2 separate regions of the Homo sapiens genome follow, and region 1 is linked to region 2. Evidence: fine-mapped expression QTL. A gene starts in region 2. The other region holds a variant in brackets. All regions are shown on one strand. Distances are between the middles of the regions. Region 1 holds the start of CNR2 (cannabinoid receptor 2). Region 2 holds the start of GALE (UDP-galactose-4-epimerase).

What was found. PIP is the estimated chance that this variant, and not a neighbour inherited with it, causes the effect.
Region 1: its variant is fine-mapped to the expression of GALE in whole blood (TOPMed, PIP 0.99).

Annotation. Positions count from the first base shown.
Region 1 is chr1:23,910,714-23,927,101 of GRCh38, forward strand. CNR2 (cannabinoid receptor 2) reads right to left here and starts at 2,649. Exons shown (of 2, transcript NM_001841.3): 1 at 2,533-2,649. RefSeq lists enhancers at 1,518-1,687, 2,461-2,975, 6,328-6,377. The variant G/A (reference allele first, on the strand shown) is at 8,675.
Region 2 is chr1:23,795,818-23,804,040 of GRCh38, forward strand. It overlaps GALE (UDP-galactose-4-epimerase), which reads right to left and starts at 4,937. Exons shown (of 12, transcript NM_001008216.2): 1 at 4,895-4,937; 2 at 3,549-3,619; 3 at 3,070-3,195; 4 at 2,798-2,913; 5 at 2,300-2,413; 6 at 1,878-2,054; 7 at 1,217-1,330; 8 at 1,059-1,125; 9 at 880-965; 10 at 692-769; 11 at 334-448; 12 at 1-190. The coding sequence starts at 3,190. The coding sequence ends at 132. It overlaps HMGCL (3-hydroxy-3-methylglutaryl-CoA lyase), which reads right to left. Exons shown (of 9, transcript NM_000191.3): 9 at 6,068-6,747. The coding sequence ends at 6,646. RefSeq lists silencers at 4,348-4,447, 4,498-4,977, 5,138-5,347.

The DNA.
Region 1 (16,388 bases), 120 kb after region 2:
AAAAACAAAAAACAAGAGCCCCTTTGAGGCAGGTTGGGAATGCTATGATAGCGTCATTTTTAGAGTTGAAGAAACTGAGGTTCAGAAAGGTGATGTAACTTGCCCCAGGTTGCCTGAGTAATTGATGAGGGAGACTTGGGTTTCCATGTGATTCCATGTGATTGATAGCACAAGCTCTGAACCCACAGCGCAGGACTCTCTGCTCACACTGGCTCCGCTATTCCTTGGCTGTGTGACACTGAGCAAGTCAACACTGCTGCTGAGTCTTGGTTTTTCTCATCTGTAAGATAGGGCTGCCTGTCTCTTTTCAGAGTGCCCTTTGTGTCTCGTGGCTCGGGGACTTTTTTCAGGGGTGAGAGTAGGAAGCAGAAGCTATTTGAAGACAACCCTTCTTCCTGTCCTTTCCTGAGAACCTGAGCGCAGTGAGAAGGTTAGGTCACGTGGGTGGGGGGTGGGGAGAGAAGAGTGTCCATCTGCCATCCACAGCCAAGGGGAGAGGAGAGATTGTCCTTGGCTGGGAGGGGACCGAGGTCTTGGGCACCTAGAATTTGCTTTCTGGGAAGATGGCAGGACCTCTGGGGGAAGTCACTGGGTGATATATCCTGGATGTCAAAATGAGACACAGTGGTTTCAGGTCTTACAAAGAATCTGGACTCCAGGCATGCCAGGGAAGTGGGCAAGGCTGGACTTCAGACAATCAAGTCCATTTGGGCAATGGGCATCCATCGTAGGAGGACCCAGGAGCCTCCCTCACGCTTATGTTCTGTGTGTCCTCTGGGTCAATGTGCATGGGTGGGGATGGGAGTGAGGGAAGCTCAGTGCACTTGGAGATTAAATTTCCTCCTAGCCCAGTAGGATGAGGCTCAGGGTCCTATTGAATGTGACTTCAACTGAATAAAGAAAAGATCAATTTATGCACACCCGAGGGTGTGCAGTAAGAGTGACTGGTACTGTAAAATGAGGTGGGAAGAGAGGGGGCTGGCGCTGGAGGGCTCTGCTTGGCTGAGCCAGGCTGCCATTTTCCCGTCTTCACTGCCTTATCCTGGCCTTAGCCGGCCAAAGGGTAAAGGATATGCTTCACCTGCCCAGCGCAGGTTAGGGGGTCACTCTGGTAAGCCACAAGGTGGTTACAGAGCTGGGGCCAGGATTATTGGGACTCCACCTCCTGAGCTCTCCCTGAACTTCTCCCCAGCCTCCATCCTGGTTTTCATGCTGCCAACGTGTCTACTTGCCACTCATTCCAGGGAAAAGCAGCCAGGCCTCATTTTATCCTCATCTCAGATCCACAGCAAGAGCAGATGGGGTGAAGATCAAACTCTCCACCACAGCCATTCCCGAGCCCTGTGCTGCTGCCCGCCCTGTGCCCGCATCAGACAGTTGACTCGCAACAAGCCTGTGAGTGACCTTCTCAGGCCCATGTTTCTCAGAAGAGGAAGCTGAGCAGGAAAGAAATGGAGTGATTTGCATTAGGCCATCGAGCTACCAGTGGCAGAGCTGGGATTCAGACCTGGACGCTGACCCCAGGGCACACTGGAAAATACTGCTCTTCCCTCCGCTGAGTGGAACTTACACCAAAGCAGACCCCTGGCCTCCTGAGTCCAGTGTGCCCCTAACACTACCTTGTGGTCTCCCCATCTATAAAATGAGAGCGCAGGACTCACCTGGTCATCTCAAAGGCCTCTGCCAGCCCCTGTCATTTCCTGGCCCCCATCTACTGTTGCAGTCCACACCTCGTAAGGCAGGATAGCCTGGTGGCTGAAGGGTGGGCCGCGAAGCCGGAGTGCCTAGGCTCAAGCCAATGCTCTCATTCAATGCCCGCATGATTTCAGGTGGGTCACCTAGCCCCCACCTATCAAGTGGACAACAGTGATAGCTCCTACTGCATACGGCTGTTGTGAGGATTAAATAAATCCAACCACTAAAGGCTCTTAGGGCAGCGCCTGGCACACAGTAAGGCCATCTCTGTGTGTGTGATTCTTGTCTCTGTAATGAAATGAAAGCCAAAGTCCTGATTCTTGGTCCTAGGAGGGGGATGCCAGCCCTGAACTTTCCTGCGACTGGTCCTCCACAACCCCAGGTGTCCTGAAATGACATCTATCCCCTGCCCCAGACAGGCCCACCTGGCTTCTTGTGTCCCTGGAGGGAAGGGATAAGGTAAGAATACAGGTTTTGGCCAGGTGCAGTGGCTCATGCCTGTAATCCCAGCACTTTGGGAGGCCAAGGTGGGCAGATCACCTGAAGTCGGGAGTTCGAGACCAGCCTGGCCAACATGGTGAAACCCTGTCTCTACTAAAAATACAAAAATTAGCCAGACGCAGTAGTGCACACCTGTAATCCCAACTACACGGGAGGCTGAGGCAGGAGAATCGCTTGAACCTGTGAGGCTGCACTGAGCCGAGATTGTGCCACTGTACTTTAGCCTGGTCAACAGAGCAAAACTCCGTCTCAAAAACAAACAAACAAACAAAAAAGAATACAGGTGTTGGGGAATGAGGAAGAAGCCTAAAATAAACAACAAAAAAAGCTACTCACGGTTGTGTTGTGGGTGGCTGGGCACTGGGAGCTGCCGGGGGCTGAGGAGTCCCAGTTGTTTTCTGTCCTCTCCCAGGACCTGGCCGTGGGTGCCACTCAGAGCACCTGTTGAGTGCCACCCCAAGCCAGCTTTCTCTTGCTTTTGTACTTTCTCACAGATGAGTGAGTGTGAGGAGGTCTGGCCTTCCGTGCCTGTTACCACTTCCCCTCCAGGTCCCTGGTGCCACAATGCTCTTGCCCCTGCGGTTGAGTTATCTCTTACAACGAACTCTGGCCAGGGTGGGGCATGGGCCTAGACCCTGGAGTCAAGGGACTTGGGTTCTAATACAGCCTCGTTAAAATGTTGATTCACTTAACTTCCCCAAAGGCAAGTTTCTTTATCTGTAAAATGGGGATAATGCACCAACATTACAGTAGATCACCTAAAAGGACATGCCATTCCAATGCCTCTTCACCACTAGGCCAGAGCTTTGAAATGCAAATGCCTACAGGCAGATTAACATAATGGGTGATGGATCCTGGTGTGGGGCAATAGGGAGTGGTAGGGACTGTGGGTAATAGGGGGAACACAGGACCCAAGTGGAAAAGCTTGGCTGGAGCTGAGAGGTACCTGACCCTCTCTACTGGCCCAGCTGAGAGGTATCTGCCCCACACCCCAGACCCTGATCTGGGCCAGTAGAGAGGGGCAGGTACCTCTTAGTTCCAGCCAAGCTTTTCTGCTTGGGAGTATAGGCAAATTGTCAGATATTCCAAGCATTTGGAAGTTGTGCTGTATTTTTCAAGAGATACCAGAAATCTTGACTTATGTGATAGCTTCCTGTGTGTGTGTGTGTGTGTGTGTTTTGTTTTTTGTTTGTTTGTTTTTGTTTTGAGACCAAGTCTCGCTCTATTGCCCAGGCTGGAGTGCAATGGCGCAATCTCGGTTCACTGCAACCTCTGCCTCCTGGGTTCAAGCAACTCTCCTGCCTCAGCCTCCTGAGTAGCTGGGACTACAGGTGCACACAACCACCTCCAGCTAATTTGTAGTTTTAGTAGAGACAGGGTTTTGCCATGTTGACCATGCTGGTCTTGAACTCCTGACCTCAAGTGATCCACCCACCTTGGCCTCCTAAAGTGCTAGGATTACAGGGTGAGTCACCACGCCCAGCCACTTCCTGTTTATTTTATTTTACTTTATTTTATTTTATTTTAATTTTTTGAGGCAGGGTCTCGCTCTGTTGCCCAGGCTGGAGTACAGCGGCACGATCATAGTTCACTGCAGCCTCAAATTCCTGGGTTCCAGTGATCCTCCCATCTCAGCCTTCCAGGTAGCCGGCAGAACAGGCATGTGCCACCACACCTGGCTATTTTTTTTTTTTAATTTTTTTGTATAGATGGGGGTCTCACTATGTTGCCTAGCTTGGTTTTGAACTCCTGGGCTCAAGCAAATCCTCCCGCCTCAGTCTCCAAAAGTGTTGGGATTACAGGCATGAGCCACCATGCTCAGCCAGTTGCCAATTTTAGAATGTAAAGCCCAAAGTCACACCTTTAAAAAATGCTATGTGAGTCAAACTAAACATTATCTTCAGTTTATATTTATTAGGGAGTATGTCCCTAATGTCCAGTCCTGGGCTGGATGTACTCAGGTATGGTATCTGATATAGTTCCAAGTGTCCTCACACCCACTCTCAGATAAAATATTTAATGAGACGCCATTATATTCTAAGGATACAGAGATGATTATGGCAAAGTTTTTGCCCTTGTAAACTCATGGCCTATGATTATCTCATCAGATCCTCTCACTAACTGCTCCCCACACCCCAGACCCTGATCTGGGCCAATGAAGAAAGATTTTGCCCCTGAGGTAGAGTTGCAAGATTCTTCAAGTAAAAAATGTTACAGGCATGAGCCACCCCACCTGGCCCAATGAATTATATTCTTGAAGATGATGGAGAGTAGATTTTAAGTGTTCTCACCACAAAAATAAGTATGTGAGGTAATGCAACAATAGTTGAGACATTCAGGCACTAAAAATTACTTGTTGCTTATGTGCGATTAGAATGCTCAGCCTAGCGTGGTGGCTCACGCCTGTTATCCCAGCACTTTGGGAGGCAGAGGCAGATGGACTGCCTGAGATCAAGAGTTCAAGACCACCCTGGGCAACATGGTGAAACCTCATCTCTACTAAAATACAAAAAATTAGCTGGGTGTGGTGGTGCGTAGTTGTAGTCCCAGCTACTCAGGAGGCTGAGGCATGAGAAATGCTTGAGCCACAGAGGCGGAGGTTGCAGGGAGCCGAGATCGCCTTACTGCACTCCAGCTTGGGCTCCAGAGTGAGACTCTGTCTCAAAAAAAAAAAAAAAAGAAAAAAGAAAAAGAAAAAAAAGAATGTAACCAGGCATTCTCTGTCTTATCTGGCAACACCACCCAGAGGGGACACTTGGCAATATCTGGAGACATTTTTGGTTGTCACAACCTGGTGGAGGAATTCTACTGACATCTGCTAGGGAGAGGCCAGGAATGCTGCTAACCATTCTGCAATGCACAGGACAGCCCTACAGCAAGGAATTATCCAGCTCAAGATGCTAACTTGCGAACCCTGGTCTGGACCTAGTCCTGGCTCCTTCAGCGCAAAGCCATTGCTGGGAAGGGCCTTTAATTTGATCATTCATCCCTTTGGGAAATGGAACAGTAACAGCCTCCAGCCCTTGCATCTCTCCCAAGAGCAAGACATTGGCAGTGAGGAATGGGACAGAGAGCCCCAGGTGCCAAGAAAGAGGAAAAGAAGACCAGAAGGAGCTGGGGAGTGGGGCCCGCCTGCAGCCTACATCAGACTCCTATCTGGGCTGGAATTGGAGACCCAGGGGTGAGCTGGAAGAGATCTAGCAGATGCTTCCACAATCCTGAATCCTAGACCTCTGGCCTTGAGAAAGCCCCACATGGGGAAGAAGGGTGAGGCTGTCCCCAAACGCCTGGTCCTCCATTGCAGCCCAAAGCATGTAATTGGAGGTGGAAGGCATGAATGAGTGAAGGAATGAATGAACGAAGGAAGAAAGAAAGGAAGTTACTGAAAGTTCAAGTGGAAGGAACGCTGGGAAGCGGAGTTTTTGTGTGGTCTCTGCCATTGCCTGGCTGACCAACAAGTTGCTTCCTGTATCTGTTCTCAATTTCTCCATTCCTAAAATGAGGAAGTTGGAGATAACAGGTGCCCCTGAAACGCCTGAGTGCATGGAAGTCACCCACAGGGCCTGTTAAAACACAGATTGGGGCCGGGTGAGGAGGCTCATGCCCGTAATCCCAGCATTCTGGGAGGCTGAGGCGGGAGGAGGTCTTGCCTGAACTCAGGAGTTTGAGGTTATAGTGAGCTCTGATTATGCTACTGCACTCCAGGCTGGGTGACAGAGAGAGAACCTTGACTTGAAAAACAAAACCCCAAAACACAGATTGCTGGGCCCCACTCCCAGAGATTCTGATTCAGTATTCTGGGATGGGGCCCAAGAATCTGCATTTCTAACTAATTCCCAGGGGAAGCAGATGCTGTCGGTCCTTGGACTCCCTATGGGCAGCACTGGACAAGAGAATCAATAAGGAAGCTCCATGATCTCTCAGTCCCCTGGGCAGGGCTGATGGGGCCCACAGGGGAAGTCTGTTCTCTTTTTGCCCTGGGAGGGCCAGGAGCAATTGTAGGTGAGGGTTTAGGAGGCGGTTTTCTCAGCTCCTTGGGTAGAGCTGGCCTCAGCAGCCCTTGTACTGTGAGATGCCGCCATCTACAGGATGGATCTACCCCATGCTGGGGCCGAGTGCTGTCATATTGAGGGTCTGATCTGAGGAGGAACATTCCCGAGAGGTATACTTTTCCTGTCAGGCCACAGGGAAGCAGTCTTTGCACTGTCTGAACCAACTGACCCTAAGATGGTTCAAAGCCAGGCATGGTGGCTCATGTCCGTAATCCCAGGCCTGTGGGAGACCGAGGAGGAAGGAAGGATTGCTTGAGCCCAGGAGTTCGAGACCAGCCCAGGCAACATAGCGAGACCCTGTCTCTACAAAAAATAAAAAATTAGCTGGGCATGGTGATGTATGCCTGTACTCACAGCTACTCAGGAGGCTGAGGCAGGAGGGTCATGTGAGCCCAGGAGGTCAAGGCTGCAATGAGCCATGATCTGCACCACTGCACTCCAGCTTGGGCGATGGAGGAAAAGAAAAAAAAAAAAGATTATTCAGTTTTCAGTGTAAATGTTGGTCCCTGAATTAACTTGGGAAAATAAAACAAAATGTGTCTGCAATCATATGGGATAACATATTTTCACCAAAACTGTTGTTATGTTTTGCCTTTTAAACCCTGCTATACAGTATTCCTTTTAAAATTAATTAATTTTTTAGAATTGTCAAAAATTGTATACATTTAACATGTACAATGTGATGTTTTGTAATATACATATACATTGTAGAATGGCTAAATTGAACCAATTAGCATATGCATTACCTCATATACTTATTTTTGTGGTGAGAACACTTAAAATCTACTCTCCATCCGCCGGGCACGGTGGTTTATGCCTGTAATCCCAGCACTCTGGGAGGCCGAGGCGGGCGGATCACGAGGTCAGGAGATCGAGACCATCCTGGCTAACATGGTGAAACCCTGTCTCTACTAAAAAATACAAAAATTAGCCGGGCTTGGTGGTGGGCGCCTGTAGTCCCAGCTACTCGGGAGGCTGTGGCAGGAGAATGGCAGGAACCTGGGAGGCGGAGCTTGCGGTGAGCCAAGATTGTGCCACTGCACTCCAGCCTGGGCGACAGAGCGAGACTCTGTCTCAAAAATAAATAAATAAATAAAATAAAATCTACTTTCCATCATTTTCAAGAATATAATCCACCGGGCCAAGTGAGGTGGGGTGGCTCATGCCTGTAATCCCAACACTTTGGGAGGCCAAGGCTGGCAGATCACTTGAGGTCAGGAGTTCAAGACCAGCCCGGCCAACATAATGAAACCTGTCTCTACTAAAAGATAGAAAAATTAGTCAGGTGTGGTGGTGGGCGCCTGTAATCCCAGCTACTCAGGAGGCTGAGGCAGGAGAATCTCTTGAACCTGGGAAGCAGAGGTTGCAGTGAGCCGAGATTGTGCCACTGCACTCCAGCCTTGGTGACAGAGCAAGACTCTGTCTCAAAAAAAAAAAAAAGGAAATCCATCAGACCCAAATTTTGCCCATTTGTCAGGCCTTTTTTCCCCCAATTATGAAAGTAAACAGAAGCAGGCCGGGTGCGGTGGCTCACACCTGTAATCCCAGCACTTTGGGAGGCCGAGGCAGGCAGATCAGTTGAGGCCAGGAGTTCAAGACCAGCCTGGCCAACATGGTGAAACCCTGTCTCTAATAAAAGTACAAAAATTAGCCAGGCATGGTGGCGGGCACCTATAATCCCAGGTACTCAAGAGGCTGAGGCAGGAGAATTGCTTGAACCCGTGGGGCAGAGGTTGCGGTGAGCCGAGATCGTGCCACTTCGCTCCAGCCTGGGCAATAGAGCGAAACTCCGTCTTGGAAAAAAAGAAAAAAAGAAAGAAAAGAAAAGAAAGAAAGTAAACAGAAGCAACCAACAATGTGCCACGTCAAAAAGGAAGCAAAGTAAGCCTTCTAACATGTGACCATTTTGTAAATTAGAAAACGTCTATATATACAAGAGTATAACATATTTCACAAGGACACATTTAAAGTTAAGGATACTTATCCACCCAGAGGTACCCCAGAGGAGAGTTACTTTTGGTGCTGCGGGAAATGGGAGGAAACGGGATAAAAGAAATTCAGTCCAGCCAGGTGCCGTGGCTCACGCCTGTAATCCCAGACTTTGGGAGGCTGAGGCGGGCAGTTCACAAGGCCAAGAAATTGAGACCATCCTGGTCAACATGGTGAAACCTTGTCTCTACTAAAAATACAAAAATTAGCCAGGCGTGGTGGCACGCACCTGTAGTCTCAGCTACTTAGGAGGTTGAGGCAGGAGAATTGCTTGAACCCAGGAGGCAGAGGCTGCAGTGAACTGAGATCGCGTCACTGCACTCCAGCCTGGCGACAGAGCAAGACTCCGTCAAAATAAATAAATAAGTAAATAAAAATTCAATCCCTTGATGAACCAATTCCACAAGAGAGACCTTGGACAGAATCCATGACAGTGC[G/A]TCATAGACGGCAGGGGGCTGCTTAAGGCAATAAACCCACCAAAGGTCTCCCTGAAAAACCCAACATTCTTATTTTGGACATTTTGGAAAACTTCTTTCTATTTTTTTTTTCTCCCCCTAACCTAAATGCCCATCAATGGTATGGAAAACTTATTTATTTATTTATTTATTTATTTATTTTTTAAGACGGAGTCTCGCTCTGTCGCCCAGGCTGGAGTGCAGTGGCGCGATCTCTCACTGCAAGCTCCACCTCCCGGGTTCACGCCATTCTCCTGCCTCAGTCTCCCGAGTAGCTGGGACTACAGGCGCCCGCCACCACACCCGGCTAATTTTTTGTATTTTTAGTAGAGACGAGGTTTCACCGTGTTAGCCAGGATGGTCTCGATCTCCTGGCCTCGTGATCCGCCCACCTCGGCCTCCCAAAGTGCTGGGATTACAGGCGTGAGCCACCGCGCCCGGCTGGAAAACTTTTTAAAAATAGAAGGAAGAAAACAAAAATGCTTCTTGATCTCACCACAGGGAGGTAGATGCTGTTAACGTTTAGATGTGTTTCTTTCTGGGCTGCCACAATTCCAGGCCAGAGGTATTGAGGAACCCAGGCTGGGCCATGGGGGCAGAGGAGAGAACACAGTGGAAGAGATGAATTAGAGGGTTGATTAATAGAACCAGAGTTTGGAGCCAAACTTGGGGCTTCCAGTGTCTGAAAAAATGCCAGCGCCCAGCACGTGACTATTTCTTTAGAGCTGCCCTTTGCCTTCCTGCGCAGCCCCAGCCCAGCCCCTGCCCAGCCCCAGCAGTAAACAGTCAATTCTATAAATAGCCATGTGGGCAGATGCCAAGGCAGATCTGAGCCTACCAGGCTGCGGGACCTGAGAGCATTTAGTGATTGTCTCGACTCTCACCATAGGGCTCAGCCAGCAGTACAAGCACAGGCTGATAACGTTCCCCTCTCCAAAAGAGGACTGTGGCAGGCAGCTTTGGTAGCAGAAGATTATATTTGGATTTTCCAGCTTCCATGAGAAGCAACATAGCACAAGGATTGAGAGTCTGGGCTCTGAACCAGAGGGACCTGGGCCTCTGTTCCCAGTTTGCCACTGAATAGCTGTGTGACTTAATTTTCTTGAATTTCAGTTTTTCCATCTAGTAATACCACCTAGCAATTACATGCAAAAAAAAAAAAAAAAGAAAAGAAAAAGAAAAAATGGAAAACACCATATAAATATCAGGGGTTGGTATAAACAAGGTAATAAGATAAATATAGATGCTGTCACTGACAAACACTCTTTTTGAGCAAACTTTAGTTAGGTTCCTCTGTCTTTTCAATTAGAACTTGAACTTGGCTCTGTCCTGTCTTTGGTTGGCCCAGCCCAGTCCTAGCAAAAAATCCTGCTAAGTCATCCCCCTACCCTGGATATCTGATAAAGTTCTTCATCGCCCACCTTTGATGTGTATGTCCTGGGCCTGCCTTTAGCAAGAATCTTGTTAGGTCTGTTTAACAAGAATCTCCATATTCTTGACGTCTCCTCTTAGTAATGTTAAAATTTATAGGAGGACATTGATTTGAACTGAACTTCCTGCACGAGGCCCAATAGAGCAGACCGAAATGGAGTTCCTCGTGCCGAAGCCCATGCTACCAAGCCAAAACTAAGTTGTTTATCTGACCTTCTGAGAAACCAGGAGAGAGCCAGATAAACACCAAACCTCCAAACAAGCCAATTTTGGCAGGCATGATAACAAAGTGCTCTCTGCTTTTTAAAAACTTTTTTTTGAAACGAAGCCTTGCTCTGTTACTCAGCTGGAGTGCAGTGGCATGATCTCAGTTCACTGCAACCTCCACCTTTTGCAAGCGATTCTCCTGCCTCAGCCTCTTGAGTAGCTGGGACTGTAGGCATGCACCACCGTGTCTGGCTAATTTTTTTTTTTTTTTTTTGTATTTTTAGTAGAGACAGCGTTTCACCATGTTGGCCAGGCTGGTCTCGAACTCCTGACCTCAAGCAATAGGCCTGCCTCAGCCTCCCAAAGTGCTGGGATAACAGGCATGAGTCACTGCGCCTGGCCTGCTTTTTAGAAACTTTAAGGCCGGGTGTGGTGGCTCACGCTTATAATCCCAGCACTTTGGGAGGCCGAGGAGGGCAGATCACGGGTCAGGAGATTGAGACCAGCCTGGCAACATGGTGAAACCCCGTCTCTACTAAAAGTACAAAAATTAGCTGGGTGTGTTGGCGTGTGCCTGTAATCCCAGCTACTCGGGAGGCTGAGGCAGGAGAATCGCTTGAACCTGGGAGGCAGAGGTTGTAGTGAGCTGAGATCGCGCCACTGCACTCTAGCCTGGTGGTAGAGCAAGACTCTGTCAAAAAAAAAAAAAAAAAAAAAAAACCTTTAAATTTTTATTTTTTATTTTTTATAGAGATGAGGTCTTACCATGTTGGCCAGGCTGGTCTCGAACTCCTGGCCTCAAGCGATCCTCCCATCCCAGTCTCCCAATGCACTAGGATGACAGATATGAGCCACCACACCTGGCCCATGTTCCCTCTGCTTTAACCTTTACTAGGAAATGAATCCCCCTTTTGTTCTCTGTTTCTGCTTTCCCCACCCCTTTTCTGTCTATAAAACTAAAACCTTCTGCTTGGCTCATGGGAACACTTATTACATTTTACAGAATGAGGTGTTGCTCTATTCTAGAATCACAAATAAATGCCAATTAAGATCTTTAAACTAAATTTGTTGTAATTTTATTTATTTATTTATTTTGAGATGGAGTGTTTCAGTTGCCCAGGCTGGAGTGCAGTGGCACAATCTCGGCTCACTGCAACCTCCGCCTCCTGGACTCAGGCGATTCTCCTGCTTCAGCCCCACAAGTAGCTGGGATTACAGGCATGCGCCACCACTCCCAGCTAATTTTGTATTTTTAGTAGAGACGGGTTTTACCGTGTTGGCCAGCCTGGTCTCAAACTCCTGACCTCAGGTGATCTGCTCGCCTCGGCCTCCCAAAATGCTGGGATTACACACCAGGCGTGAGCCACCACACTTGGCCAATTTGTTGTAATTTAGTCTTTTGATAGTAAATTTCCACCCACAGACCCCCCCAGTCACTGAGCTCCTTGGCTATAAATTCCCACTTATCTGTGTTGTATTTGGAGTTGCGTCTGATTCCCCGCAATCCGTTGCAACACCCCTACTGCAATAGTCTTAAAGTTATCTTCACCATTTTAACAAGTGTCGGGATAATTTTCCTTTCACATCTCCAATCTGAACAAAAAATATAAAAGTTAACCCAGGAGAAAACCCATGTCAGGCAGTAAAATCCCACACACCCATCATAAATTCCATACTATCCCGGTACCTGGCACAAGTGTCCAACCCATGATTGGACAAATACTCAGAGAGTATTTGTTGAATGAATAATTGCTGAGTGTCCCTGGCATGGCAAAAATAATGGAAGCCATAGAGTCTGGGAGGTGGGTCTGATCTGTTCCTTTACCTCTGGAAGGTGGGATGGTGTGGGGAGACAGGACACTGGGAGTCAGAAACCCCAGTGTCCAATCCCAGCCCCATTCTAACTCTCTATAAGCCTCAGCCCCGTCATCTGTGAAATGAACAGGCTGGGTTTGGTAAGAAGTTAAAACTTTTTTTTTTCTTACTGCAATCCATGAAAGATTCATTTTATATCATGACTCAATACACATATAAGGCCGGGAGCAGTGGCTCACACCTGTAATCCCAGCACTTGGGGAGGCCGAGGTGGGAGGATCACCAGAAGTCAGGATTTCAAGACCAGCCTAGCCAACATGGAGAAACCCTGTCTCTACTAAAAATACAAAAATTAGCCGGGTGTGGTGGTGCATGCCTGTAGTGCCAGCTACTCGGAAGGCTGAGGCAGGAGAATTGCTTGAAACTGGGAGGTGGAGGTTGCTATGAGCTGAGATCACACCACTGCACTCCAGCCTGGATGACAGAGCAAGACTCCATCTCAAAAACAAACAAACAAACAACAACATAAAAACAAAAAACAAAAACAGAAACACATATAATACATACTATATGTAAAATTGCAACTTCAGTTTCGTGAAACCAATAATTCTTACTATACGGGATACACTCTGATATTTTCCTTTTTATTTTATTCAGTTCTAATTAATTTTATTTTATTTAACTATGCCATTTGTAGCCAAAGAAATAATTTTTATTACTCACCAATGGATCACAAGCTGAAAATACTTATTAGAGAGCCTCTTCTCTAGGTCTGGAATTCTAATCTGCCCACATATTTTCACCTCTACACCTTTGATTCTCTTAGCCTGCAATGCCCTCTGACTCTTGCTTATCAATTTGGTCTTGACTCCTTCTTCCAGGCCCAACATAAGTCCTTCTTCCTCCAGGAAGTCTTCCCAGCTTGTCACAAGTCCCATTTCTCGTTCAGTTTTTGTTTTGTTTCCTTAAATTGCTGTACCTGTCAATTAGCCAGCAAGTATTTATTTGTCTGTTTATGTGTCTAGAACTGTGCTTGGAGAATGAGTCAAAAAGACATAAGATGCATTCTGGGGCCCAGGTGCTGAGTTGGAGTGATCAGCAGGACACAAAGGACAGGGGACATGAGAAGGTAGCCCATTAGGGGGTGCAACCTCTTGGAGGAAGAGGGACAGGGAAAAACCTGTCTTCCACTTCCCACTCCCATCCTTGCAAGGGTTCAGAGACGTGGAGGGAGGGCAAAGAGAGTTAGGGCTAAGGACAAAACAGAGCCCAAAGGGGCCAGGGGTGGCAGGAAGAGCTGTTTTCTGTACAAAGAGAAGTTAGAGTCCAGGGCCCCAACACAGGGGTTAAAACAAATGGGTCAGAAGGAGGCGTTTCATGCCGCTGGACTGGCTGGGTCACTGGCGACTGAACAACCGCAGCAAAGTCTGCAGCTGCAGTTTCCACTCTGAGCAGATGCCAAAGCATCCAACTGGCTGGGCACTCCCGACTCCAGTTGGCTGGAGAAGCTGTGGATAGGTTTGAACTTCCAGGAAAAGTTGACTGAACGACTTCATGGTTTTATATCACAGGCTGAATAGTGACAAAGATTCCTTGACCAAACTCTACTCAGGCCTTGAACTTTTCTTTTTTCTTTTTCTTTTCTTTCTTCTTTCTTTCTTTTTTTTTGGTGGAGTTTCGATCTTGTTGCCCAGGCTGGAGTGCAATGGCGCACAATCTTAGCTCATCACAACCTCCACCTCCCGGGTTCAAGCGATTCCCCTGCCTCAGCCTCCTGAGTAGCTGGGATTACAGGTATGTGCCACCACACCCGACTAATTTTGTATTTTTCATAGAGAGGGGGTTTCTCCATGTTGCTCAGGCTGGTCTCGAACTCCTGACCTTGGAAGATCCTCCCGCTTCGGCCTCCCAAAGTGCTGGGATCACAGGCGAGAGCCGCCGTGCCCGGCCTAGCCTTGAACTTTTCAACGAGACCTTGACTTCTGTGTTCATCTCTGCATTGGTCAATGTCAGCAAGAATCCTGTGAAGTTGATTTAGCTAGAATCTCCTGTCCTCCATGTCTGATCACCCTCAATATCTGATAGGGTCCTTCATCCTCCACCACCTCCCAGGTGACATCTGATGATCCTGGCTTGCCTTCAGCCAGGATGTTAGGTTGGCTTAGCCAGAAGCCCCCCTCCCCTTACTTCTGATGTATTCTCTTAGTAATTTTTCATCCGGTGATCCCCACCCTGCTCCTTGGCTATAAATTTCCACTTGCTGATTCTGTATGTGGACTTGAGTCCCCCCAACTGCAAAACCCCATTGAAGTGGTCTTTATACCTGTCATGATGCGCCCCCCCCCCTTGAATAAACGCTTCCTTACCATCTTGAATGAGTGTCACTAATAATTTTGTCTTTAACAACAGCTTGCAGGACCCATAAAAGGGTATAGCCAAGAGTTAATAACCGGGGATTCGGGAGATCCTTGGATGGATGAGGAAGCAACAGGGGAGGAAAGACCAGATCAGAGACCAAGTTCTAGTTCTGGCACTGCCTCATCCTGCCATGTGGCCTTGAACAAGTGTGAGCCTCAGATTCTTCTCCTACAAAAGCAGAAGATGGGAGAGACCATCCTGCTCTGACTTTCCATGTGGGACTGAATTAGACATAACTCCTGCCCTCAACGTGTTTACAGTCCAGTTGGGAAGGTGAAGCATTGGCTGAACTGAGTCATAACACTTAGCCCCAGGTGGCTGGTTCTGGTGTATAGTCAATAGTTAGTAAATGTCTACTGAATAAATGAAAGGAAAACACTAATAAACCTCCTCACTGAACCCTCACTGTATACCAGACACAGAGTTAAACTTTTCACAAATATTTTCTTATTTAACCCTCACAACACTTACCAGTAAGGATTATATATCTATATTGTGTTACATATTCAAATATAACATAATATTCCCCAGGAAGTAGGTAAGAGGAGCTCTAGGTGTTTTGGGTAAGACCAAGTTCACCATCTTTTGTACTCCGGAGTGTAATCTTCACATGGTCCTATAGGCCAGGAGGCAAATCTTCTCCCACCTCACTCCAGAATTCCTGTTCTGTGACTCATTTTATTTTTAAAAATTTTATTTATTTATTTATTTATTTATTTGAGATGGAGTCTCGCTCTGTCACCCGGGCTGGAGTGCAGTGGCACTATCTTGGCTTACTGCAGCCTCCGTCTCCTGGGTTCAAACGATTTTCCTGCCTCAGCCTCCCGAGTAGCTGGGATTATAGGCTGGGATTACACCAAACCCAACTAATTTTTGTATTTTTAGTAGAGATGGGGTTTTGCCATGTTGGCCAGGCTGGTCTCGAACTCCTGACCTCAGGTGATCCACCGGTCTTGGCCTCCCAAAGTGCTGGGATTACAGTGCTGGGATTACAGCGTGAGCCACCGCGCCTGGCCCCCTGACTCATTTAGTATTTCTCCAAAGCATTTATCATCACATGACACCTACTGTATATTTCTTTTCTTTTCTTTTTTTTTTTTTTTTGAGACAGTCTCGCTCTGTCCCCCAGGCTGGAGTGCAGTGGCGCAATCTCGGCTCACTGCAAGCTCCGCCTCCCGGGTTCACACTATTCTCCTGCCTCAGCCTCTGGAGTAACTGGGACTACAGGTGCATGCCATCACGCCCGGCTAACTTTTTGTATTTTTAATAGAGACAGGGTTTCACAGTGTTAGCCAGGATGGTCTCGATCTCCTGACCTTGTGATCCGCTGGCCTTGGCCTCCCAAAGTGCTGGGATTATAGGCATGAGTCACCGTGCCCAGCCAACACCTGTTGTATATTTCATTTGTTCATTTTTCTGTTCCTCCTTCCTAAAATATAAACTTCATAACAGCAGGGATCTATATCTATTTTGGTCACTTCTACGTCCCCTGTGTCTAGAACAGTGTTTGGTACATCCCCAAAATTAGGTGTTCAACATCCATTAGGTGCTCAACTAATATTTGTTGAATGAATAAATGAATAGACGAATGAAGTAGGTGAGTCTCAGAAAAGTTAAACAAAGCAACTTATCCAATATTATCCAGCCATCAAGTGGCACAGATGGAATTCAAACCTAGAATTGGGACAGGCTTGGAGTCAATCCATTTAACCACTAAACCATAATTGTCTCATTCATGCAACAAATATTCACTGAGATCCTAATCCCTGAAGGACACTGTTCTAGGCACTGGGGATATAGCGGGGATGAAAACAGACAAAATCCT
Region 2 (8,223 bases):
GCGGGCCCAGCTGGGGTTTGAGGTAGGGGAGGCCTTGGCTTGGCCCCAGCAGCTCCAGGGCCCTGAGTTCCTGCCAGAGGCTGGAGAGCAGGCAGCTGCTGCTTTTCCTGGTCCTTGGTAGGGGAGGGTCCTCAGGCTTGCGTGCCAAAGCCTGAAGGATTCTGCTTCTGCCAGCGCCAGAGATCCTCACCTGCAACACGGCGAGGTGTGTGCTCAGGGCCCACGGTGGAATGCAGAGCCTCCCCCACCCCACAGCCCGCCCTGGGTGGGCATGCCCAGATCTGATTTAGCCCCTCCCTGGCCCCTAACTGCAGGGGTCAGGCCAGCACTCACACATCCTGTCCAGCCCTAAGGCTGCTGTCCACCCCAGCTCCTCTTGGGCCAGGCTGGGGTTGGCGTAACAGGCTGCCACATCACCTTCCCGCCGTGCCACCACCTTGTACGGGATCTGCAAGACAGGAGGTAGTTGGAGCTTAGCTGAGCCGGCCCTGGCCCAGCTGCTGGCCAGGTCTTTAAGAAGCAGAAGTGCAGAGCAGCGGCTGGCCCGCAGGCACCGGGTGCTAGGCAGGCTGAGGAGACTGGGCAGTGCCAGGTACCCTCCAGAGAGGTGAGTGGGAAGGGCCAAAGCTGCTCTGTTGCTGAGAGCTGGGTGGGGTGAGGTGGGTGAGGTGGGTGGGGCGGGGGGGCCTACCTTCTTCCCAGAGGCCTTCTCCATAGCCTGGACCATCTGCAGCACTGAATAGCCTGTGCCCGTGCCCAGGTTGTAGATCTGGCCCACGGAGAACAGGGTTTATGGAGCGGGCTGGACTGACCACGCCTCTGGGCCGCTCTGCCTGGATCTGGTCCCTCCCCTCCCTCACTTCTCCCTTCTCTTCCTACCCGGCAGCCACACTGTTCTTTCAGCTTCCTTAAGGCTGCAATGTGGCCCTTGGCCAGATCCACGACATGGATGTAATCCCGGACACCTGCAGAGAAGGGAGTGTGTTGGATGGGGAGTCTGTTCCCCCTGACTCTCCTTCCTGGCTCCCACTCCTAGGTCCCCCTGGTCCTAGGCTCACCTGTGCCATCCTCTGTGTCATAGTCATTGCCAAAGACATTCAGGGCCTCCCGTCGCCCGATCGCCACCTGGAGGTGGAGATCAGGTCAGTTCGTCCCAGATCCCAGGCACCAGCTTTAACCCCAGGGCCACTCCTCTGTCCCTTCCCTTTTGCCTTACCTGGGAGACATAAGGCATGAGGTTGTTGGGTATGCCCTGGGGATCCTCACCAATGCAGCCAGAGGCATGGGCACCTGTGGGGTTGAAATAGCGCAGCAGCACTGCGTTCCAAGTCTGTGGGATGTGGGTCAGGTGGTGAGGCCAGAGGCACAGGCAGCGTGTCCCAGCTGAACCCAGAGCCCTCCTCATGCCTATTCTGTTTTTTTGAGATGGAGTCTCACTATGGCCCAGGCTGGAGTGTAGTGGCCTGATTTGGCTCACTTCAACCTCTGCCTTCCAGGTTCAAGCAATTCTTGTGCCTCAGCCTCCCGAATAGCTGGGACCACAGGCACACACCACCATGGCCGGCTAATGTTTGTATTTTTAGTAGAGATGGGGGTTTTACCATGTTGTCCAGGCTGGTCTTGAACTCCTGACCTCAGGTGATCTGCCCACCTGGGCCTCCCAAAGTGCTGAGATTACAGGTATGAGCCACTGCGCCCGGCCAGTTGTCTATTTATTATCTTTAGAAACAAGCAGGGGATGGGGCCCTCCACTGCAACTGCCTGAGCCTTAGCTTCCTCCTTAGTGGGGGTGTTCGGAATCCCACCCCTGGGCTCAGGGTGGGCCCTGAGGAGTCCATCGATCAGTGGAGCCAGGGCACTGTCAAGGGGGCCCTCACCTTGTCTGCCTGGCACAGGTCCCGGATCATTTCCTCGATGAAGAACTTGGACTTGCCGTAAGGGTTGGTACAACCACCCGTGGGGTGGGCCTCATCAAGGGGCAGGTACTGGGGGTTCCCGTACACAGTGGCTGAGCTGCTGAACACCAGGTTCTTCACCCCGTGGGCCTTCATGATCTGGCCGTGGAGAGATGGCATCAGTGACCTCTGCCTCACACATTACTCCCACCCTGTTACTCCTCCACAGGAGAATGGGGCTGAGGTGATGAGCACTCTCATTTACAGATGGGGAAACTGAGACTGGGAGGTAAAGACATGAGTCCAGGATGATACAGCTTGGGCTCTGTGTTTGGCACTGCCTGCCAGGCTGGGGTCCAGCTGGACACCCTCCTAGTGTCTGTGCCCTGTCCCATGCCTCTCACCTCCAGAAGCTGGATGGTCCCGGTCAGGTTAACTCTGTAATAATCCAGAGGCTTCTGCACCGACTCGCCCACGGCCTTGAGCCCCGCAAAGTGGATGACCGCCATAAAGCTGTACTGCAGGGGTGACATGGCCAGAGGTTGCTCTACTGGTTTTAGTCCTTGGCAATGCCCTCAGCCTGCCTGCCTGCACTCACCTTTTTTTTTTTTTTTGACAGTCTCGCTCTGTTGTCCAGGCTGGAGTACAGTGGTGCCATCTCAGCTCACCGCAACCTCCACCTCCCAGGCTCAAGCCATCCTCCCATGCCAGCCTCCCGAGTAGCTGGGACCACAGGTATGGGCTACCATGCCCAGCTAATTTTTGTATTTTTCTGTAGAGATGGGGTTTCACTGTGTTGAGCAGGCTGGTCTTGAACACCTGGGCTCAAGTGATCTCCTCACCTCGGCCTTCCAAAGTGCTGGAATTACAGGCGTGAGCCACCGTGCCCAGCCTGCACCCACCTTTTTGAAGAGACGCTGTAGGGCTCCCTGGTCCAAAATGTCCATCTCCTCAAACTCCACAGAGCGGCCTGTCAGCTCCTGGACCCGCCGCAGGCTCTCAGGCAGGGAGCCCCCTCCTGGTAGGGTACATGTAGGCCACATCATCACGACATGGGGTGCTGTGTTCCCAGGGACTAGCCAGACACACATTCCCCGCCCGGTGGTGGAGGTGGAACCCAGGGTTTTGCTTCTGCCATCCCCTCAAGTAGCCCCAGCCCCACTGCCCCGCTCACCACGGAAGGCATTATGGAAGTTATCGATGACCACAGGCAAGTAGCCAGCCTCCAGCAGCTCCAGCACCGTGTGGCTGCCAATGTAGCCAGCCCCACCTGTTACCAGCACCTTCTCTGCCATGGCACCTGGCCCAGGATACAGAGTCTCAGAGGTGGCTGAGGCTGCCTGCTCAGAGCTTCCTTCCCACTGGAATCCTGCCCCCTAAGCTCGCTTTGGAAGGAGGCGGCAGTGTGCCCTAGGTACCAGACTGGCTCAGAAGTCAGCCCTGGGGCAAGTCTGGGTACCATCACTTTCTGGCCTTAGGCTTTGGAAATTAATTAGCCTCTTGGCCTCAGTTTCTATCTCTGTAAAACAGAGCTAATAATTGTATAAACTTCATGAGGCAGCGTGAGGGTTCAGTGAGGTGATCTTAAGGGCCCGCCACAGCAGAGCTGGGGAGACCTGACACACAGGCACCTTATTTTCTAGTTCCACTTGCCTTGGAGTTGGAAAAGATGGAATCTGAGGATCCACACTTCTTTGTCCAAGGTGACTGAGGACTGGAGAGTCCTGGGCAGAAGGAAAATGGCAGCACGATTGGGACTCCAGGGTCGCAGGAAGGGGTTCTGTCTGCTCAGACCCAGGCTTGTCCAATGCCTCCGCCTTCGCTAGGTGTAAACTGGCTCCTGGGCGCAGTGACTAATACCTCCTGCTCTAGGCGGCCCCCACCCCCTTTCCCTCAAGGGTCAGCTGGGAGGAAGCAGGAAATAGATCACATGGCCTCAAGGGTGAGGTCCTTTGCCAGGCAGGCTGAGGCCAGCTCAGGGGCAACCACACCGTGGTTGGTCCTGGAGGGGGCCCCACCCCAACCCCCGCTCAGCCTCTGCCCATGCCAGGGCCAGCCCGGTCACTCCTGGCTCAGAGTTAGGAATCCCGCCCAACTTAGGCTACTCTGGGTGGGCCGTGTAGACGTGGACTTGGCCAGGTGCGCACCTCCACCCTGAACAAACTCTGCGGGTAGTACGGGGAGGAAGCCCCAGACACTGAGGCCTTTCATTCCCAGCGACCGGGCCCGCTGCCGCCTTCCTCCACGCTGCCTCTATCCCCTTCTGGGCTCACGCAGCTCCAACCCACTTGACCAAGAGCCCTCTGCGTGCCAGGCTCCGTACCAGGCACTTTTGCATGATTTTCCTGAATTCCCCCAGCATCTCGGTGAGACAGGTGTTATCACTGGCACTTTACAGATACAGATACTAGGGCCAGAGAGGTGAAACAGTTGCCCTTCGGTCCCACAGCTGGCGACAGCGGGCTGGAATCTGGATCGCCAGGCTCGCAGCCCGGCCCTCTCCCCAGGCGGCTCGCCCTTCCCCCACCGCTGCCCGCTGGACTCTGCCCGCCGCGCCGAAGCCGCCCCCGCCCCCGCCCCGCGCCTGGCGCGGACCCCGAAAGTGGTCGCAGAGAGGCCCTGGGAAGCACGAAAGCTGGTCTGAGGCCGGCTGCGCCCCCGACAGCGGAGTGACCTTGCTCAGCCGTCGCCCACTCGGTTTTCCCAGTCTGTCTGTTGGAGGGAAGGGGAGCTAGGCCGTGGGCATACGAGGGCGGCTGGGTCTCAGGCTGGGCTTTGGGCTGTAGCGCGGAGCGGGGCCGAGCTAGGAGTCCTCAGGCCGGCAATGAATGAACCCCGGCCGCCCCAGCCCGGGCAGCGGGGAACTGGGACAAAGGGGGCGGGCCTGCCCTGGAGGGACGCTGCCAGGAACACGACCCGCCCCTCGGAAACTCCCTCGCTCCCCGCGGACTCCCCGGCCCCTCGCGAGCCCACCCGGCCCTTCATTCCGTCTCCCGAACCTGCTCGGGTTCCCGCGCCCCACGCTTGCTGCAGAGGCACCGCCTCCTACGCCCGAGCCGCGGGCCCTTTAAGTGCTGACGGCCCACTCCGGCCCCGACCCCGCCCCTCCACGCCCCCAAGGAAACATGTCACTCGGGTTACGGCCACTACGGGGAGGGCGGGAGGACAAAAGGCCTCCGCGCTGTGACGAAGACTGCGCAGCGCGCGCCCGCGGAAGGCGGAAGTGGGCGGTGCCACCCCGCGAGAGGCGCCGCCGGCGCCAGGTCCCAGTAGCGGGTGGGTCCTTGCCGGTGCCCCGGGTCCCCGCGCTAGCTCGTCCCAACCCCTGGAAGAGGGCTGCGCTTCCGAGGGGGCAGGGGGCAGAGGGTAGGGGGCCCACGCCTCCGCCCCACTCTGACCCGCAGGTTTTCAGACTTGCCGGTGTGTGCCAAACCATGAATTCAAAATCTTGAACTACCCGATCCCACGGGACTAAGGCAGGAGGGGGTCGCAGGGGGCCTGGTGCTGGAAGTCCAGTTTGCAAATAAACCAAGGAGCTGGAGGAAGCTGTCAGGCCACACTAGCGGTTCCAGCGCTCTTGGCTCTCAGCCCCCACCTGCCGGGAAGGGTCGGTCTGCACTCTGCCTTCCACGACGGCAGGTTAGAAAATGATTGTTTGTTTACAATGAAAAGTAGTAGAGCTAGAGAATAATATGCACAAAATGTGACATCCTGCGTGATGAAACCAGAGCAAAGGAGCCCTAAATGCAGGAGCGCACAGGTGTCCGCGCAGCCGGGAATCAGCCAGCGCCTGCCCGCAGAGTCCAGGGAACCGACAGGTGAGCGCTCCCGGGCCCGGGAGCGCCAGGGAGAGGCCGGGCCACCGAGGCCCAAAGCAGCAAGTGTGTCCTCAGGGGAGCTTGTGCAATAGCCCCAGTCACAGAGGCAAAGCTCAGAAACAACCCCGTCGGGTGTTCTGGCCAGCAACTGCCGCAAGCAGCCTCCTGAGTAAGCCCAAAACCACTGATTTCCAGTCACTATGGATTTGGGGCTCAGGTGGGGAAACAGGGAGGAAATCCAAAGATTAATAAACTAGTTCATAGTCTCCATTTTCCTCTCAGAGTGCAACATGGTAAAGTATTTTACTCCCCCACGCGCATGTATACACACAGCTGCACAACCGAATGCTGGAATTATGATGTGCCATTCAACCTTTAATTACATAAGCTGTTTTCAAAAATCACATTCAGCGTGGAGATTTTCCAGAGATGCTGGAGTTGGCAGACGGCCACCACGTAGCTCTCCACTTTCCACAAATGGCCTCTGCCAGCTTGGGAAGAACCTCCATGACCTGTGTCCTGAGAAGTCAGAGAGCAAGGGCCCCACGGCCATGGCAGGGTGGAGCCGTGTAGAGGGTGGCCAGGTGGCCAGCTCGCGGATTCCATCCAGAGAGGAGACTCAAGGATCATGCTAAGTAGGGAACGGGGTTCCCACACGTCCTCAGGCATTCAACTCCTGGGCCAGGGTCCGTAACAAAGGGAGACTTCAGCCCTCAAAGCCTCTCACTCCTCAGGTCTGGGCAGGAGGTCCTTCTGCCAAGCAGCTCCTCCTGCCCTTCGCCTGCTTTCTGCCAGGAGAGACCTCTGTGTAGAGCTGGCTATGAGGTACCTGCACCATTTAACCTATTCTCATTTCCATGTCCCCATCCATGAATCATCTGTGTGTGCCCCTATTTCCACATCATCCCCAGGGCTTCAGGTGGGCAAGGGGCTCAGAGTTTACAGGTAGCCTGAGCCACTTTGGAGCTAGTTTTTCTGTTCAGGGCTTGACAGATAAAGTTTCCAGCTTCCAGAAGCTTCTGGAGATTCACACCCTTTGAGAAACAAGTTAGAGGATGCGGTAAGTCATGGTATGCCCTCAACACCAGGGAAAACATCAGCATGGACAGACAACTGTGATACTGAAAAGTAAAGGTGAAGATAAACAGGCTTTTTCCTTGACAGCGGGGCACCAGCTGCCTGTGAGCTCCTGTCTGTCTGGCACCTGGGTTATTCCTCTGACTCCCCCTCATGTAAGATGCCCAATCTCTGTCATGGTTTGTAGTGCCACTACCAGGGCACAGATCTTATCAGTCTTGTTCAGTACTCCCTCTTCAGGGCCCAGCACAGGGCCTGGCCCACAGAGGTAAAAAACTGATATTCAAGTGACAATTGTGAGGCAGAGAGGGAGGGATAAAAACACCAACTGAAAGGGCCAGACAGAAACCCTCTGTTCATACAGTAGCTCATATTTGCTGAAGTGCACTCTGTGCTCAGCTCTGTGATAAGCATTCTACATAACTTTTCTTTCTTTTTTTTTTTGGAGACAGAGTTTGCTCTTGTCGCCCAGGCTGGAGTGCAATGGCACGCTCTCAGCTCACTGCAACCTCTGCCTCCCGGGTTCAAGTGATTCTCCTGCCTCAGCCTCCCGAGTAGCTGGGGTTACAGGTGTGTGCCACCACACCCAGCTAATTTTTCTTTTCTTTTTTTTGAGAGGGAGTCTCACTGTGTCGCCAGGCTGGAGTACAGTGGCGTGATCTTGGCTCACTGCAACCTCTGACTCCTGGGTTCAAGCAATTCTCCTGCCTCAGTCTCCCGAGTAGCTGGGATTACAGGTGCGTGCCACCACACCCAGCTAATTTTTGTATTTTTAGTAGAGATGGGGTTTCACCATGTCGGCCAAGCTGGTCTCGAACTCCTGACCTCAGGTGATCTGCCCACCCTGGCCTCCCAAAGTGCTGGGATTACGGGCGTGAGCCACCGTGCCCAGCAATTTTTCTATTGTTAGTGGAGACAGTGTTTCACCATATTGGCCAGGCTGGTCTCAAACTCTTGACCTCAGGTGATCCACCCGCCTTGGCTTCCCAAAGTGCTGGGATTACAGGCGTGCGCCTGGCCCTCTACGTACGTTTTCTTACTTAATCCTCACAATGGCTCCATGAGATGGATGGCATTATTATTCCCATTTCTTAGGTTCAGAGAGATGAAATAATTTGTCTGAGGTCTCATAGCCTGGGAGTGGCAGGAGTAGGCTTTAAACCCAGTTCCATCTGATCTTTAAGCACAGATGCTATTCTGCTTCCGTCCCGCCACTGAGGGCCCTGGTGGACTCTGGCGGATCCCTGGTGAGCTGTCTAACGCTACTGTCCTCATTTTACAGAGAACAAAACAAAGCCAAGAGAGAACTGACTCATTTCAGGTCATGAACCTGACCCTTCCCAGGGCCCCTTCCATGTTCCTGGTGTCTCCTAGGACTGAACTGTCAAAGTCACCCTGACACTCCAGCCTTCTTATGCCCATGCGTGTGGCCT